Homo sapiens: one gene and its partners. The protein of the gene in region 3 interacts with the protein of the main gene of each other region in a biochemical or structural test. Each region holds a gene or a part of one and is shown on either strand. Other genes may lie near its edges.

Region 1 (2,478 bases), on a different chromosome or scaffold from region 3:
AGAAGGTAGAACCAGGATGCAACAGTTTTCTGGGTTCCAGGGTAGGGAATAAAGGGCAAGATTGTCCATTTGTTGAGGCTGTTTATTCAGTAAGGTGACTGACAGCCTTTACTGAATGAAGCCATTGTTGGGATGAGGCAATCCACTGGATGAGGTAACCCATTGGGTGAAGATGTTCTTGGGTGAGAATTCCATTAGTTGACATTGTCCATTAAGTAAAAGTGGTCATTGAAGTAAGGCTGCACAGTTGGGTAAGGCTATCCATTAGACAATTAGATGAGACTACCCATTGGGTCAGGATGTCTGCTGGGCTAGACCATCCTCTGAAACCTCCAAAGTATAAACTTGTCATTGGGCAAAGCTCTTCAAAGGATAAGATTATCAATGGGATGAAGTGATCCACTGAGATAAGATGATATTTTACTGACATTGTTCTCAGGGAAAGTTTTCCATTGAACAAAGATGGCCAATTGGGTCAAATTTGCTCTCCAAACCTGCCATGAGAGTGAGGCCAATTAGTTTCTATTACTCATCTCCTAAATATCCAAGAAATGGTATTTTTTGAGCCAGCTGGTCCGGGGTTTCATCAACTGCTGCTCCTTCTCCCAGGAAAGACTATCCCTGTCACCCATCCCATTGCCGCTGGGGACAGCCAGGCCTGGGCCTTGGTTTGGGAGAAGCAGTCCAAGTCTGCATATCAAATAAATGATGGAGGAGATGGGTGGTAGGACCTTCCAGACCTCATAAAACTTAGGCTTTATGATCTGGGACTCACAGAAGGTTGAGCAATAAAAGACCTTAGGGATTATCTGGTTTAATTAATTCTCTCATTTTATAGAGGAAGAAATTAAGTCAAGGTGGGGCAGGGTGGGAGGGGAGAACTTTCCCGGGCCTCTTCATTTACTCCCACAAAGGCTGGAATTTTGAGCAGCCCCTGTCTGTCTGTTTGTCCTTCCAGCCACCCCTGAGACCCCACAGCCCTCACCGCCAGGTGGCTCAGGGTCTGAGCCCTATAAGCTCCTGCCGGGAGCCGTCGCCACAATCGTCAAGCCCCTCTCTGCCATCCCCCAGCCGACCATCACCAAGCAGGAAGTTATCTAGCAAGCCGCTGGGGCTTGGGGGCTCCACTGGCTCCCCCCAGCCCCCTAAGAGAGCACCTGGTGATCACGTGGTCACGGCAAAGGAAGACGTGATGCCAGGACCAGTCCCAGAGCAGGAATGGGAAGGATGAAGGGCCCGAGAACATGGCCTAAGGGCCACATCCCACTGCCACCCTTGACGCCCTGCTCTGGATAACAAGACTTTGACTTGGGGAGACCTCTACTGCCTTGGACAACTTTTCTCATGTTGAAGCCACTGCCTTCACCTTCACCTTCATCCATGTCCAACCCCCGACTTCATCCCAAAGGACAGCCGCCTGGAGATGACTTGAGGCCTTACTTAAACCCAGCTCCCTTCTTCCCTAGCCTGGTGCTTCTCCTCTCCTAGCCCCTGTCATGGTGTCCAGACAGAGCCCTGTGAGGCTGGGTCCAATTGTGGCACTTGGGGCACCTTGCTCCTCCTTCTGCTGCTGCCCCCACCTCTGCTGCCTCCCTCTGCTGTCACCTTGCTCAGCCATCCCGTCTTCTCCAACACCACCTCTCCAGAGGCCAAGGAGGCCTTGGAAACGATTCCCCCAGTCATTCTGGGAACATGTTGTAAGCACTGACTGGGACCAGGCACCAGGCAGGGTCTAGAAGGCTGTGGTGAGGGAAGACGCCTTTCTCCTCCAACCCAACCTCATCCTCCTTCTTCAGGGACTTGGGTGGGTACTTGGGTGAGGATCCCTGAAGGCCTTCAACCCGAGAAAACAAACCCAGGTTGGCGACTGCAACAGGAACTTGGAGTGGAGAGGAAAAGCATCAGAAAGAGGCAGACCATCCACCAGGCCTTTGAGAAAGGGTAGAATTCTGGCTGGTAGAGCAGGTGAGATGGGACATTCCAAAGAACAGCCTGAGCCAAGGCCTAGTGGTAGTAAGAATCTAGCAAGAATTGAGGAAGAATGGTGTGGGAGAGGGATGATGAAGAGAGAGAGGGCCTGCTGGAGAGCATAGGGTCTGGAACACCAGGCTGAGGTCCTGATCAGCTTCAAGGAGTATGCAGGGAGCTGGGCTTCCAGAAAATGAACACAGCAGTTCTGCAGAGGACGGGAGGCTGGAAGCTGGGAGGTCAGGTGGGGTGGATGATATAATGCGGGTGAGAGTAATGAGGCTTGGGGCTGGAGAGGACAAGATGGGTAAACCCTCACATCAGAGTGACATCCAGGAGGAATAAGCTCCCAGGGCCTGTCTCAAGCTCTTCCTTACTCCCAGGCACTGTCTTAAGGCATCTGACATGCATCATCTCATTTAATCCTCCCTTCCTCCCTATTAACCTAGAGATTGTTTTTGTTTTTTATTCTCCTCCTCCCTCCCCGCCCTCACCCGCCCCACTCCCTCC
Region 2 (3,655 bases), on a different chromosome or scaffold from region 3:
GGAGAATCGCTTAAACCCAGAAGGCGGAGGTTGCAGTGAGCCGAGATTGTGTAACTGCACTCCAGCCTGGGTGACAGAGTGAGGCTCTGTATCAATAATATAAAATGAGGTAAAATAAAATAAAATACCTCTCTACACACCCACTAGCATGGCTAAAATGAAAGGACTGGCAACTCTAAGAGATGGCAAAGGTGTAGAGCAATCAGAACTCTCTGCTGGTGGGGTTATAAGACAGTACCATCACTCTGGGAAACTACCCTTATAAAGGTAAGCACAGACCTACCCTATCACCCAGGAATCAGGAATCCCACTCCAAAGTATTTTCCCTCAATACATGGAAACATGCGTTCAAAGAAACTTGCAGGCTGGGCACAGCGGCTCATGCCTGTAACCCCAACCCTTCAGGAGGCCAAGGTGGGAGGATCGCTGTAGCACAGGAGTTGGAGCCCAGCCCAGGCAACACAGTGAGACCTTGTCTCTAAAAAAAGTTTTTAAATAAGCCTGAGCCAGGTGTGCTGGTGTGCAGCTGTCATTCCCGCTACTCAGGAGGCTGAGGTGAGAGGACTGCTTGGGCTCAGAAGTTCGAGACCAGCCTGGGCAACATAGCAAGACTGTGTCTACATTAAAAAATATATTTAGATACAAAGCAAAAACGCTGAGCAGCGTGCACGTCCTGCTATCACTTGTGTAATGAAAATGGAGAGAAGGCATCTGAGTAAACACCTATTTGTTTATAAGTGTAAAAAATATCGGAAGAGCGTGGGGGAGCGAGAATCTGGCCACAATGGCAGCCTTGCAGTGGCCGGGAGACGAGACAACGAGATGACAGGCAAGCCCTTTAGAACAGGGATGGCGAACTGCCCCTGGTAAAGGCTGGAGCTCATCAGCTTCGCAGGCTATGTCTGTGCTCCCAGGTGCTCCCAGGACGGCAGTGCACACAGTGGTGTGGCCTGCACCCACGACAGGGCCTTTACAAGAACCGGAGCCATGGGATCGCACCTCAACTACCAGCACTGTCTTGGAACTTTCTCAATTAAAACCCACGAGAAGCCGGGTGCAGTGGCTCACGCCTGTAATCCCAGCACTTTGGGAGGCCGAGGCAGTCGGATCATGAGGTCAGGAGATAGAGACCATCCTGGCTAACATGGTGAAACCCCGTCTCTACTAAAAATACAAAAAATTAGCCGGGCGTGGTGGCAGGCGCCTGTGGTCCCAGCTACTCGGGAGGCTGAGGCAGGAGAATGGCGTGAACCTGGGAGGCGGAGCTTGCAGTGAGCTGAGATCCTGCCGCTGCACTCCAGCCCGGGCGACAGCGAGACTCCATTTCAAAAAAAAAAAAAAGAAAAAAGCCAGACTCCCTGGGCTCGGCTCCCAGCCCTGCCAGGGCCTCTGTGGCCTCAGCCTGCACGTCCCGCCCATGTTGACCTGTTTCTTCGGGGACCGGTGCCGGGTCTGTGGCTGGCCCTCAGGAAGAGGGGGCTGCCACAGCCGGTTCCCGTTTATATGCTCAGGGCACAGCCAGTCTCTGCAGAGGTGATGGGCTGTGGAGTCCCGGCTGGGCCCTTGAGGAAGGCCGCCTAATTGGGAGGGGGGCACACAGGCCACCTGCAGACGCGCCCAGGTCTGCCCTGAGTGCCAGGGGAGCAATGGTTCAGGGGCAGGGAGGCTGCACGGGAGCCTACACCTGAGCTGGGCCTTGAGCTTCCAGGCTGGGTCGGAGGTGAAAACACAGACACCCCACCCCTCAGTGTCTCAGAAGGAGGTAGGGGAGAAGGGTGGGTCCCCAGCAGGCAGCAAGGGAGCCACCCAGCTGGCCAGGGATTGTTGCCAGCCCATGCCTGGGGCAGACAGGGCCCAGTCATTGAAGAACAAGACTCTGGGGTCCCTGCCCTGGGAGGGCTCCTCCCTCTGGGGGAGACCGGGCTGTGCTTCTCTGCTGGGGGCCTGGGAGGTGCCCTGTGCTCTCACTGCTGTGCCACTGGCCCCGGGCCGCTGACGGTTCCCCCCAAACACCCGGCCCCCCTATGCTGGGGAAGGGGCTGTGGGGTCTCCCTCAAACCTGCCCTTCTGCCCTCGGGGTCAGCTGTTTGGGGCCAGAAACCCAGGTGGCATCCATGAAGCCCCCGTCTCTGCTGTCCTGCAAACATCCACTCCCTCAGCCAGTCCTGTCAGCTCTGTTTTCAAATCCCGCCCGGTGCAGACGACTGCCCCCAGCTCTGCCGGTCTCAGCAGCCAGAGCCCGCCCCCTGGGATGGCTCCGCAGGAGACCCCTGACCCTCAGTACCCCTGCTCAGGGCCACACACACCCCGGCGCACACACGGCCACCACCCTGGCCTCCTGCTTGGGCCCCACCAGCCATGCTGCATCAGGGCCTCCGCACCTGCCATTCCCTCTTCTGGAACCTTCCTCCCCCGACCAGCCTCATGGCCCTATATTTGTCTTTGTACAAATGTCACCAGAAGGAAAGCCTTCGCTGAGCACCCCATTTAAAAACCGCACCCCCCGCCACCTCACTTTTCTCCAAACCTTCTCCTCCTAAGGAGCGACTCAGTTTCCCTACATCACTCTGCTGCTCCTTCTTGTTGGGCCACTGAAGCATGAAGTTCCCCAAGGGGGAGATGGTTTCGTGGGCTGCCCAGCATCCAAGGCCACGGGACCAAGGCAAGGGCACCACTGAACCAGATGCACCTTTGGGGCCAGGTGCAAGATCAGGTGACCACGGGGGCCCTGCCAGGCAGAGCCGGTTCTGGGGTGAGGTGCTCAGCCAGGCCCTCCGGCCCGGGCACGAAAAGCAGCCCCTGGGCCCGATCCGAGAGCCCAACAAGAAGGGCCCAGCCGTTGGCTCCACCCAAGGCTGCCAGGGAGCCTCACGAGATGCTGCTGACGATGAATATTTAACGCTGTGAGCAGATGCTCACAGTATGGGGGGTGGTTATAAAATAGCAGCCAGGACACAGCCACACATTCCTACAATCACACATGCAAAGGGAGAAGGCGGCAAGCACCGGCCCGGTGTACCGAGGCGGCCCACTCGGGCAGCAGGGCGCCGGCCGGACTGCTCTGCTGTTGACTCCAGTTTTCTAGGACAAGCGCATAATTGTACAAGTTTAAATAGAAATGAAACACAGGGAGTTTTTAAAAGGCTGACTGGGGCCGGGCCTGGTGGCTCACGCCTATAATCCCAGCACTTTGGGAGGCCGAGGCAGGTGGATCACTTGAGGTTAGGAATTCAAGACAAGCCTGGTCAACATGACGAAACCCCGTCTCCATTAAAAATACAAAAAATGAGACTGGGCGCAGTGGCTCACGCCTGTAACCCCAGCACTTTGGGAGGCCAAGGTAGGTGGATCACCTGAAGTCAGGAGTTCAAGACTAGCCTGGTCAAGATGGTGAAACCTCGTCTCTACTAAAAGTACATAAAATTAGCTGGGTGTGGTGGTGCGTGCCTGTAATCTCAGTTACTTGGGAGGCTGAGGCAGGAGAATCGCTTGAAGCCAGGAGGCTGTAGTAAGCCAAGATCGCGCCACTGCACTCCAGCACGGGCGACAGTCAGACTCCATCTCAAAAAAAAAAAAAAAAAAAGCTGATCGGATGGGACCATTCCCCCTCCAGCTGGCCCATGTGCTGGCCCCCTCCCCAGGCTGTCCCCTCCCC
Region 3 (3,655 bases):
GATACAGGCATATAATGCATGATAATCACATCATGGAAGATGGGGTATACATCCCTTCAAGCATTTATCTTTTGTGTTACAATCTATACTCTGTTAGTTATTTTAAAGTGTACAATTAAATTATTGGCTACAGTCACCCTGTTGTGCTGTAAAATATTAGACCTTATTCATTCTAACTACTTTTTGTACTATTAACCATCCTCACCTTCCCCCAATCCCCCACTACCTTTCCCAGCCTCTGGTAACCATCCTTCTACTCTCTGTCTCTATGGGTTCAATTGTTTTGATTTTTAGATCCCACAGATAAGAACATGTGATGTTTGTCTTTCTTTGCCTGGGTTCTTTCACTTAACATAATACCTCCAGTTCTATCCATGTTGTCTCAAGTGACTGAATCGCATTTTTTTTATGGCTGAATAGTACTCCACTGTGTATAAGTCAAGCATAAAGAATTTTAAGCATACCGGAATAATACAGGAAGTTCCCCCATTGTACTCATTCCTCAGTTTCAGCCATTATCAAGTAATGACCAATCTTGTTTCATTCATACTCACTCTCTTTCTTCATTCTATATTATTTTGAAGCAAATCCTATATTAGTTTTATATGTAAATATCTTAGTATATATTTCCAGTAAAGGTTTTTAAAACATAAACACAGCGCCCATAATGATTAATTCAAAGGGTCTTAAATTCTTAAATAGGTCTACATAATTTTCTTTGTGTAAATGTTCTGTTATTGATTATGTTGGTTTAATTTTTCTTCTAGCTGTTTAAAAAAATAGAAGGGAACATCTTTGTGTTTATAACTTTTCTCATATTTTAGTTTAAGAAATTTGTAGAATTTCTAGATCAAAAGGCCATATTACAGTGACACCAGAGTGTGAGAACCAGGGTTACTGTGCTGGCTAGCAGTAGATGTCATAGTTTAATAAACTTTTTGCTGATTTAAGAGGCAAATACTTGTTCTGGTTAGGGAAAAGGTGATATTAGTGGGGCAGAAGCATTCTTTTAACGATATATATTTATTATCTTCTGTAACGGATTTTCTGTGTTACATTGTGTGTTGTGATTTTAAACATTTTTGTAGGTCAAGGGGTCTAGCCTTTTCATAAACTTTCTTTTTTTGAGAAATGTAATATACAGAAAAGTATGTAACACAAGTAAGTATATAGTCTAACATCACTAAAACCAATACTCATGTAACCACTACACAGATTGAGAACTAAAACATTATGGCATCCCAGAAACCCTCCTACCCCATGAATTTTGTCTCTGTCAAAACCTCTTTCCTTCTCCCCAGAGGTAGCTACTGTCCTGCTTTTTATGGATATCACTTTTTTTTTGCTCTTTTATTTATTTTTTAAATTTTTATTTATTTATTTTGAGATGAACTCTTGTTCTGTCACCCAGGCTAGAGTGCAGTCATGCAATTCGGCTCACTGCAACCTCCACCTCCAGGTTCAAGCCATTCTCCTGCCTCAGCCTCCCGAGTAGCTGGGATTATAGGCACCCGCCACCATGCCTGGCTAATTTTTGTATTGTTAGTAGAGATAGGGTTTCACCATGTTATCCAGGCTGGTCTTGAACTCTTGGCCTCAAGTGATCTCTGCCCCATCGGCTCCCAAAATGCTGGGATTACAGGCATGAGCCACCATGCCTGGCCCTTTTAAAGTGATGAATACATCCCTAAACAGTCTAGTAATCTGGCTTTACTTGTTTTTTTTTTTTTTTTTTTTTTTTGAGACGGAGTCTCGCTCTGTCACCCAGGCTGGAGTGCAGTGGCGCGACTTGGCTCACTGCAACCTCTGCCTCCCGGGTTCACACCATTCTGCCTCAGCCTCCCAAGTAGCTGGGACTATAGGCGCCCGCCACCACGCCCGGCTAATTTTTGTATTTTTAGTAGAGACGGGGTTTCACTATGTTGGTCAGGCTGGTCTCGAACTCCTGACCTCTTGATCTGCCCGCCTCGGCCTCCCAAAGTGCTGGGATTACAGGCGTGATCTACCGTGCCTGGCCCTCATTTTCTTTTTACCTAGCTTTATAAATACTTGTTTAAAACAATTTAACATTTGGACTGATTGTGTAAAGACCACTTTTAAGTGTTGTTACTGTTTTTTGTTGTGTTTTTTTTGGCCACCAAAACATTGGGTAATTGTTGTCTTAGACAATCTCTGTAGTTTTGGTTTAACCAGTGTACCTATCAGTTGTTTGCTGAAGCTTCTTGTCCATAGCATAATGTGATACCTTCACATTACATTTTCTATAGACAATATATATATATTTTTTTAAATTTTTGAGACGGGGTCTCACTCTGTGGCCTGGGCTGGAGTGCAGTGGCACTCTCATGGCCCACTGCAGCCCTGACCTCCCAGACTTAGGTGATTCTCCCATCTCAGCCTCCCGTGTAGCTGGGACTACAGGTGGACACAACCACGCCCAGCCAATTTTTCTATTTTTCGTAGAGACGCGGTTTCACCATGTTGCCCAGGCTGGCCTTGACCTCCTGGGCTCAAGTGATCTGCCCATCTTGGCCTCCCAAAGTGCTGGGATTATAGGCATGAGCCACCATGCCCGGCTGAAAATAATTTCATAAATACTTCAAAACTGGCTTTTTAAGAAGACACTCAGTGAAGACACTTAGTGTATCACTGGTTTTTATGTTCTAAGCATAATGAAATATATGTAAACAAATATTTATCTTTGTGACAAGTTCATTAGAGTGACATGGCAAAACATTTGAGTTTTTAAGTTTTTGAATTATCCAATCTTCATGTGATCTGTTTTGATAACTCCTCATTGCATTGGAAAGTATTTTATTGCTTGGCAGCATTTTGAAAAGTAATTAGGGTACATAGCTTTTACAAGTTGTTTTCTTTTAAAAAAATTTTAAGCATCAATCATACTTCATTTTAGGTTATTTTTTTTTTTTCCGTAAGATCTGGGTTTCTTTTTTGTCATTCTAAGTAACTTTGTTGAAAGTAAGATTGTTGAAAGTTTTATTGCTTCAAATTCTAGTTTAAAGTTCATAAACAGCTTATTGAGATACAGATAAATCTTTCTTTTAAATATGTCGAACCTATTTCCACCCTGGGGTCTTTGCTTTCGCTTCCTCTTTGAAATCTGTTCAGTCTTCACATAGATAAAAGGTTATTCAGGTCCCATCTTTTCAGATGGGATGTCCCCTACCATCCAGTCTGAAGTGTTCTTCCCAATCATCTGCTGTTCCATACCCTGTTTTATTTTCTTCACAGTGTTCATTGTTATCTGAGTTATTTCATTTGTTTGCTTATTTGTCTGCCCCTGCACCTCTGTGAGAACAGGGACTGTAGCTGTTTTGTTTTCTACTGTGTATGCAGTGCCTAGAAAGATCCCTAGATACTCTGTAGATATCTGTTAAATGAGTTAAAACAGGAAAGCCAAATAATTTTTATGTATTTGGGCTTGATGTAATAATTGTTGTTTACAAATAAAAATTAGAAATACTTGATCAGTTGTCTTTGTAAACCAGAGTAGCACCTCTTTTTTCCCAGTGATTTAAAATTATATATTATTGTTCAAATGAGTACACTAAATACATCTCCAAAGTTAAAATTGTGGTAGTTAACATGACCTGACTTCACTAAAAATACCTTTTGCTATGGCATAGGTGGGACA

The links.
Region 1: the proteins of SMAD4 (region 3) and HNF4A form a complex in vitro, tested with the Homo sapiens proteins (one study listed by BioGRID).
Region 2: the proteins of SMAD4 (region 3) and PIAS4 form a complex in vitro, tested with the Homo sapiens proteins (one study listed by BioGRID).

Annotation. Positions count from the first base shown.
Region 1 is NC_000020.11:44,428,565-44,431,042, forward strand, and holds part of HNF4A (hepatocyte nuclear factor 4-alpha), read left to right. Parts: intron 1-958; coding exon 959-1,101; 3' UTR 1,102-2,478. UniProt on the Homo sapiens protein: Transcriptional regulator which controls the expression of hepatic genes during the transition of endodermal cells to hepatic progenitor cells, facilitating the recruitment of RNA pol II to the promoters of target genes. Activates the transcription of CYP2C38.
Region 2 is NC_000019.10:4,017,609-4,021,263, reverse strand, and holds part of PIAS4 (E3 SUMO-protein ligase PIAS4), read right to left. Parts: intron 1-3,655.
Region 3 is NC_000018.10:51,061,135-51,064,789, forward strand, and holds part of SMAD4 (mothers against decapentaplegic homolog 4), read left to right. Parts: intron 1-3,655. UniProt on the Homo sapiens protein: In muscle physiology, plays a central role in the balance between atrophy and hypertrophy. When recruited by MSTN, promotes atrophy response via phosphorylated SMAD2/4.